Linked DNA regions of Homo sapiens: region 2 is linked to region 1. The links come from fine-mapping of genetic effects on gene expression. A gene starts in region 1. The other region holds a variant in brackets. All regions are shown on one strand. Distances are from middle to middle. Region 1 holds the start of CDC26 (cell division cycle 26). Region 2 overlaps FKBP15 (FKBP prolyl isomerase family member 15).

Region 1 (2,867 bases):
ATCATTTGTATATTCTCCACAGCATCCCCTAGAGTGTATCTATAAAAACAGTCAGTAAATGTTTGTTGACTAGAAGGTGAGATCATTCTTGAGCACCGTGCTGTTTTTCCATTCCCATTCTTTACATTCTTATTTTAACACAAAAACCCTGTGAAGTTGACAAAATGATTCCTATTTCACACATAAAGAAGTCATCGAAGCAAGCTGTTCAGTTTGGTTAATAATTTTAGCCTCCTATAAAAATTATAAAGGTCAACATGATAAGCATTAAGTGAAAATGATGGAAGTGAAAACTCCTTGAAAGTATGTACAGATACAAATTATTACACGTATCTAGGATGAAACTAAGGACTGTGAAGTATACAAAGGAAGAAATAGTTCCTTCTCCCATGAAGCTTAGGATACTACAGGTGATATTATCAACACAAAACACTGGCACATTACATTTCAAATTCCTTTGTACTAAATCAGGCATTATCTTCTACCAGATTCCAATGCAGACAAATGGTAGAGAAAGCCAAAGTTCCAAAGAGGGAAAGAGAGGGATAGGGATACCTAAAAGGGGGAAAAAAAAATCTATACATTTTACCTTTTCTGCAAACTGCAAAAAACTGGCCACTAGGGAGCAGTATAGATTAACAGTTAAAAGTGCTGGCTGTAGAGGTTAAAGGGCACAGGTTTTAATCCCACTACACCACCGATCCTGAACAATTCGTTTCATTTCTCACTAGACCTTAGTTCCCTCATCTGTATCCTACTCTGCTGTTGTAGGAAGTCAATAACGTAATACAGAGTAAGCTCTTGGAATATTATTTGGCATTTAATAAATGTTCAATAAATAACATCTATTATTGCTGTAATTGTTCTAGGGGGTTGCATGAGGATCTGGCCAGCTAGGGAAACGTCAATATTTTGAGGATCTCCCACCGCCCATGTGGGGATAAAAACCTTATCCTGTTCGTCTCTAATGCCCCAGCATCCAGCAGGGCAGAGAGACGTACAGAGTTACCTGACACCTTCCTATCCATCATCTTACTCTCAATCTGATACAAAGACCAGGCTGAAGACAAATCAACAAAATCAGGCCGAAGCTCCTCCGCCGGGTCTTTATTTGACTTTGGCACTAGCGGGCTCTTCTAGCTTAATCTCCCGCCGCAGCCCAAATCCACCGCCGAGCCATCAAGCTCAGAGGGGGAGCCTGGGAAGACTTCCGGACCATGGAGGAGAACAGTCCTCGTCCCCTAGCTCCAGGCCTGTACCTCGGAGCCCAGGCAAGGGTTTCTATGGTAACATGGTCCTCGGCTCCAAGAAGACGTAAACGCCCCCGTACGCCCGGGGGGCACAGCGGACCCCGGAAGCCCTTGACTCGCTCCAGAGTTCAGCCCCGAGCCGCGCGAGTCGACTCACCTACCTCTTTTCAAGCCGGCCTAGCCCCTTCCCGGAACCTCGGCTCCCCCCCAACGAAACTACTGCTAAGCCAACTGGACTACACTTCCCAGACTGCTTGGAGCCTCTCTCTCCGCAGAACCTCGTCTTCCGCGAGCTTTTCCTGGAGGTTCTAGGAGGGATGCCCCTCAATGCCACGACGCCATTTCCTACTACGACTTCCATCATGCTCCGCGCCGCTCCGGGGGCGGTGACCCCTCTTGGCCCACGTCTTGTCAGTGACGCACTTCCTGTCAGTGACGCACTTCCCCTCTGCTGGGCGCGCGGTGGACGGTCTGAAAGGGAGTGTTCGGGTTTCGCTGGGGCCTCGCGGCTCCAGAGCCCAGCATGGCTTCCTCGCGAGCCTCTTCCACGGTACAGAGCCCGGGATCCCAGCTCACTCTGGCAGGGAGCGCTAAGGGGGAAGGGGATCTCTGCGGGAAGGGGCCGTTAAGGAGCGGGAGAAGGCGGTGGAGGGCTGAGGAGGAAGGCTGCGGGACTCAGCGGTGTCCTACACAGCGGACCACCGTTTTCCTGATCCCTAAGCGCTTTCGTGGACTGTAGCTTATTTGCACCTCTCCCACTACAGCCCCAAAGGGCAAGCATCTCTTCCGACTCATCCAGTAACGGTGCTCTGAAATAGGGAAGTGTCTTGGCCAAGGTTTATGCCTTTGGCAGATCTCAGAATTTTAATGAGACCTACTAACTCCTACTACCTCACGTCTAGGAACGTTTGAAATGTATACACTTGTAATGTTGTAACTTGTTATCCTTTAGCACCGCGTTGGTTATTTCATCTATCCTTAGTATTTCCCCAGTGATAAGCAGTAATCCGGGAAGCATAAAACACGAGATTGAACACTTCCAACGGAATGAAGTAAACAGATTTCAGAGCAAACCTTTCATAGGAAAATACCCGAGAGAACCTCACTAGTTTTATTAATCCCATCAACCAAAGTGAGGGACTGAAACACCCTCACCCTACCTTCACCTCCTCAAATCAATGAAGAGCGTCTTAAGTAGTGTCCAATTTGTCCTTTCAATTACAGAGGAAACAGGACTGTGAAACTCAGGGTGAGCTTCATCCTCTGGTGAAGTCCGGTAAATTGCCAAGATTAAACCTTAGTTTAATGCAGATCTTTGATTTAGCAGGCAACCAAAACTAAAGCACCCGACGACTTAGTTGCTCCGGTCGTGAAGAAACCACACATCTATTATGGAAGTTTGGAAGAGAAGGAGAGGGAGCGTCTGGCCAAAGGAGAGTCTGGGATTTTGGGGAAAGACGGACTTAAAGCAGGGATCGAAGCTGGAAATATTAATATAACCTCTGGTAAGATGCAAATTGTGAGCCCATCTTTACCTCTTTGTGTAATGAATACCTTTCTAAACTTAAATACCACAGTTTTATAATGTCAAAAAATTACAATTTTTTTTTTTTTAAA
Region 2 (2,979 bases), 69 kb before region 1:
CCAACTTGTATATAAAACAACATGAGGGATAAAATCATAAAACTCTTAGAAGAAAACGTAGAGGTGAATCGTCATGACCTTGGTTTTGGTAATGGATTCTCAGATAAAACACCAAAAGTACAAGTAACAAAAGAAAAAACTTGATAATATGGACTTCACCAAAATTAAAAACTTTTGTACATCAAAGGACATTATCAAGAAAGTGAAAAGATAATCTATAAAATATCTGCAAATAAGGGTTTAATACTCAGAATATATTAAAAGACTACTACAACTCCACAACAAAAAGACAAACAATCCAATTTTTAAAATGGACAAAGGGCTTGAGTAGACATCTCTCCACAGAAAATACATGAATGGTCAATAAGCAAATGAAAAGATACTCAACATTAGACATTGGGTAAAATGCACATTAAAACCACAATAAAGTACCATTCCACACCTACTAGAATGGCAAGAATTTAAAAATAATAATAATAACAAAATGCTGGCAAGGATGTGAAGAAACTGAAACCCTCATACATTGCTTGTGGGAATGTGAAATGGTGTGGCTGCTGTGGAAAACAGTTTGGCAGTTTCTCAAAAAGTGGTACATAAAATTACCATACGAGTCAGCAATTTCCACTCTTAGTATACAGCCAAAATAGGAACTTGACCATATACTTTTATGTCAGTCTTCACGATACATACTTTTTTTGTCTATTCCCAATAGACAAAAGGTATAAACAACCCAGTGTCCATCAACTGATGAATGAATAAACAAAATGTGGTATATACCTACAATGAAATATTTTTCAGCCATGAAAAGGAATGAAATACTGATGCATGCTATAACATGGGTGAACCTTCAGGACATTATGTGAAATGAAATACATCAGTCACCAAAGACAAATACTGTTATGATTCCACCTATATTAGGTACCTAGAAAGGGCAAATTCATAAAAACAAGAAGAGATTTGACCTTATGGGCAGCTGGGAAAAAGGAAGAAGTAGAGTTATTGCTTAATGGTTACACTTTCTGTTTGGGAAATGGATAGTAGTGATGGTTGCTCAATCAATACTGTGAATGCAATTAATGGCACTGGATTATGCACTTAAAAATGGTTAAATGGCAAATTTTATCTTATATATACATATGTATGTGTATATATATGTGTGTATTTGTGTATGTGTGTGTACACACGCACCCCACAATTGAACAACAAACAAACAAAAAAATGCCCAAATTCTTAAGCTAGGATCATATCACAAAGGTCAAATTTAACAATTTTGAATGGTTGGATTTGTTTTAACGCACAATAGTAAGCAAAATGTGATCATTTACTATATGCTTGATGTTATAAATTAACATTCAATACAAATAATCATCCTTATCTTCTGATAAACAAGACATCGGGCAAGCCAGATAAAAGCCAGCTCATTGGTATTATTTGGGACATCTGAATATACATGAGATGTGGGAGCACTCTCACCTCTCTGGCTGTGTGGTTCCCCAGAACTGCAGCACCAAATTTGCCCTGCTTTACATATTGACCATTTGTGCTA[T/C]AAAAGGAAGAGAAACAACAAGTATTAATACTTCCCTAAATTCTGCAGAACCAGCTTTCTTTTCTGTCATACAGAAGTGGGAACAACAGTCATTCAGCCTCTAGGCAGGGACACAGGTGAGCGGTTTAAAATTTTTTTTTTTTTTTTTTTTTTTGAGACAGAGTCTCGCTCTGTCACCAGGCTGGAGTGCAGTGACATGATCTTGGCTCACTGCAACCTCTGCCTCCCAGGTTCAAGCAATTCTTCTGCCTCGGCCTCCCAAAGTGCTGGGATTACAGGAGTGCGCCACCGCACCCGGCCCAGCAGTTTATAATTTAAAGCTCATATACTATTCCCTTACTCTTTAAATATAAATATCTATCATTCATGCTATCTCAGTGGAGAGGCTTTCTTTGAGCATTTGACAGCTGTTGAGGGTACAAGCACTCCCTAAAGACAGTAGACAAGATAATGGCTTTTCAAGTTTTACCACAGAAATCTCCAATTCAGATGTTAAAAGTTCTACTGATATTTTGTCCGTGGAAGGGCTAAATAACCGTTTTGCAACAAACAGAGGTTTTTCGAGAAAAAGTAGCTTAACTGCACGCCCTTCCACCAAACTTCAGAGGGTGTTCCTTCTCAGCGACTTACTATCGATATGCATGGACTGCTGTTGCGACCAGTATTGTGGGAGTGCTCATGGTGGCTGGTGCTGTTTTTGGTGTTGCCTGATTTCCTGAAGATGAACAAGAAAACAAAGTTGTCATTCACTTCTTGCTTTAAACTAATTTTTTTTAAAGACGGAGTTTCACTTTGTCACCCAGGCTGGAGTGCAGTGGCGTGATCTCGGTTCACTGCAACCTCCACCTCCCGGGTTCAAGCCATTCTCCTGCCTCAGCCTCATGAGTAGCTGGGATTCCAGTTGCGTGCCACCACATCCGGCTAATTTTTGTATTTTTAGTAGAGATGGGGTTTCACCATGTTGGACAGGCTGGTCTTGAACTCCTGACCTCGTGATCCACCTGCCTCAGCCTCCCAAAGTGCTGGAATTACAGGCGTGAGCTACTGTACCTGGCCTTAAACTAATTTTTAACCACTGAACTAGCTTCAAAATTGATCTTTATAATTTACAGTCAGTGTTGTAATGCTTTTATGATTATCCTTATTTGATCCACAAAGCAGCCCTATGATCTAGTCTGGGGGTGAAGAAACTGAGGTTCTAATCACCCAAGTGCCTCACACAATTATACCATGATAGTGCCTAGGTCTGAAACCCATGACTCCAACTCCCAACCCACACACCCCAAATAAGTCTTTGGCTAGACAAGGAGTACTGTCTAAAAAGTGATAGTCCATCTATTTTATTTTCTCCTTCCAGTATTTTGACAGCTATAATATATGAAAATAAAGTTATTTCCCCTTCCCTGTCTTCTAGGGTGGGAAATTCAGTAAGA

The links. PIP is the estimated chance that this variant, and not a neighbour inherited with it, causes the effect.
Region 2: its variant is the best candidate, but not a certain one, in a credible set for the expression of CDC26 in whole blood (INTERVAL, PIP 0.56).

What each region holds. Positions count from the first base shown.
Region 1 is chr9:113,273,971-113,276,837 of GRCh38, forward strand. CDC26 (cell division cycle 26) reads right to left here and starts at 1,602. Exons shown (of 4, transcript NM_139286.4): 1 at 1,412-1,602. It overlaps PRPF4 (pre-mRNA splicing tri-snRNP complex factor PRPF4), which reads left to right and starts at 1,688. Exons shown (of 14, transcript NM_001244926.2): 1 at 1,688-1,800; 2 at 2,578-2,755. The coding sequence starts at 1,774. RefSeq lists enhancers at 713-1,568, 1,336-1,675.
Region 2 is chr9:113,205,036-113,208,014 of GRCh38, forward strand. It overlaps FKBP15 (FKBP prolyl isomerase family member 15), which reads right to left. Exons shown (of 28, transcript NM_015258.2): 3 at 2,177-2,261; 4 at 1,474-1,543. Among named protein-coding and RNA genes, the nearest start is that of FKBP15, 15 kb to the right of the region's middle. The variant T/C (reference allele first, on the strand shown) is at 1,547.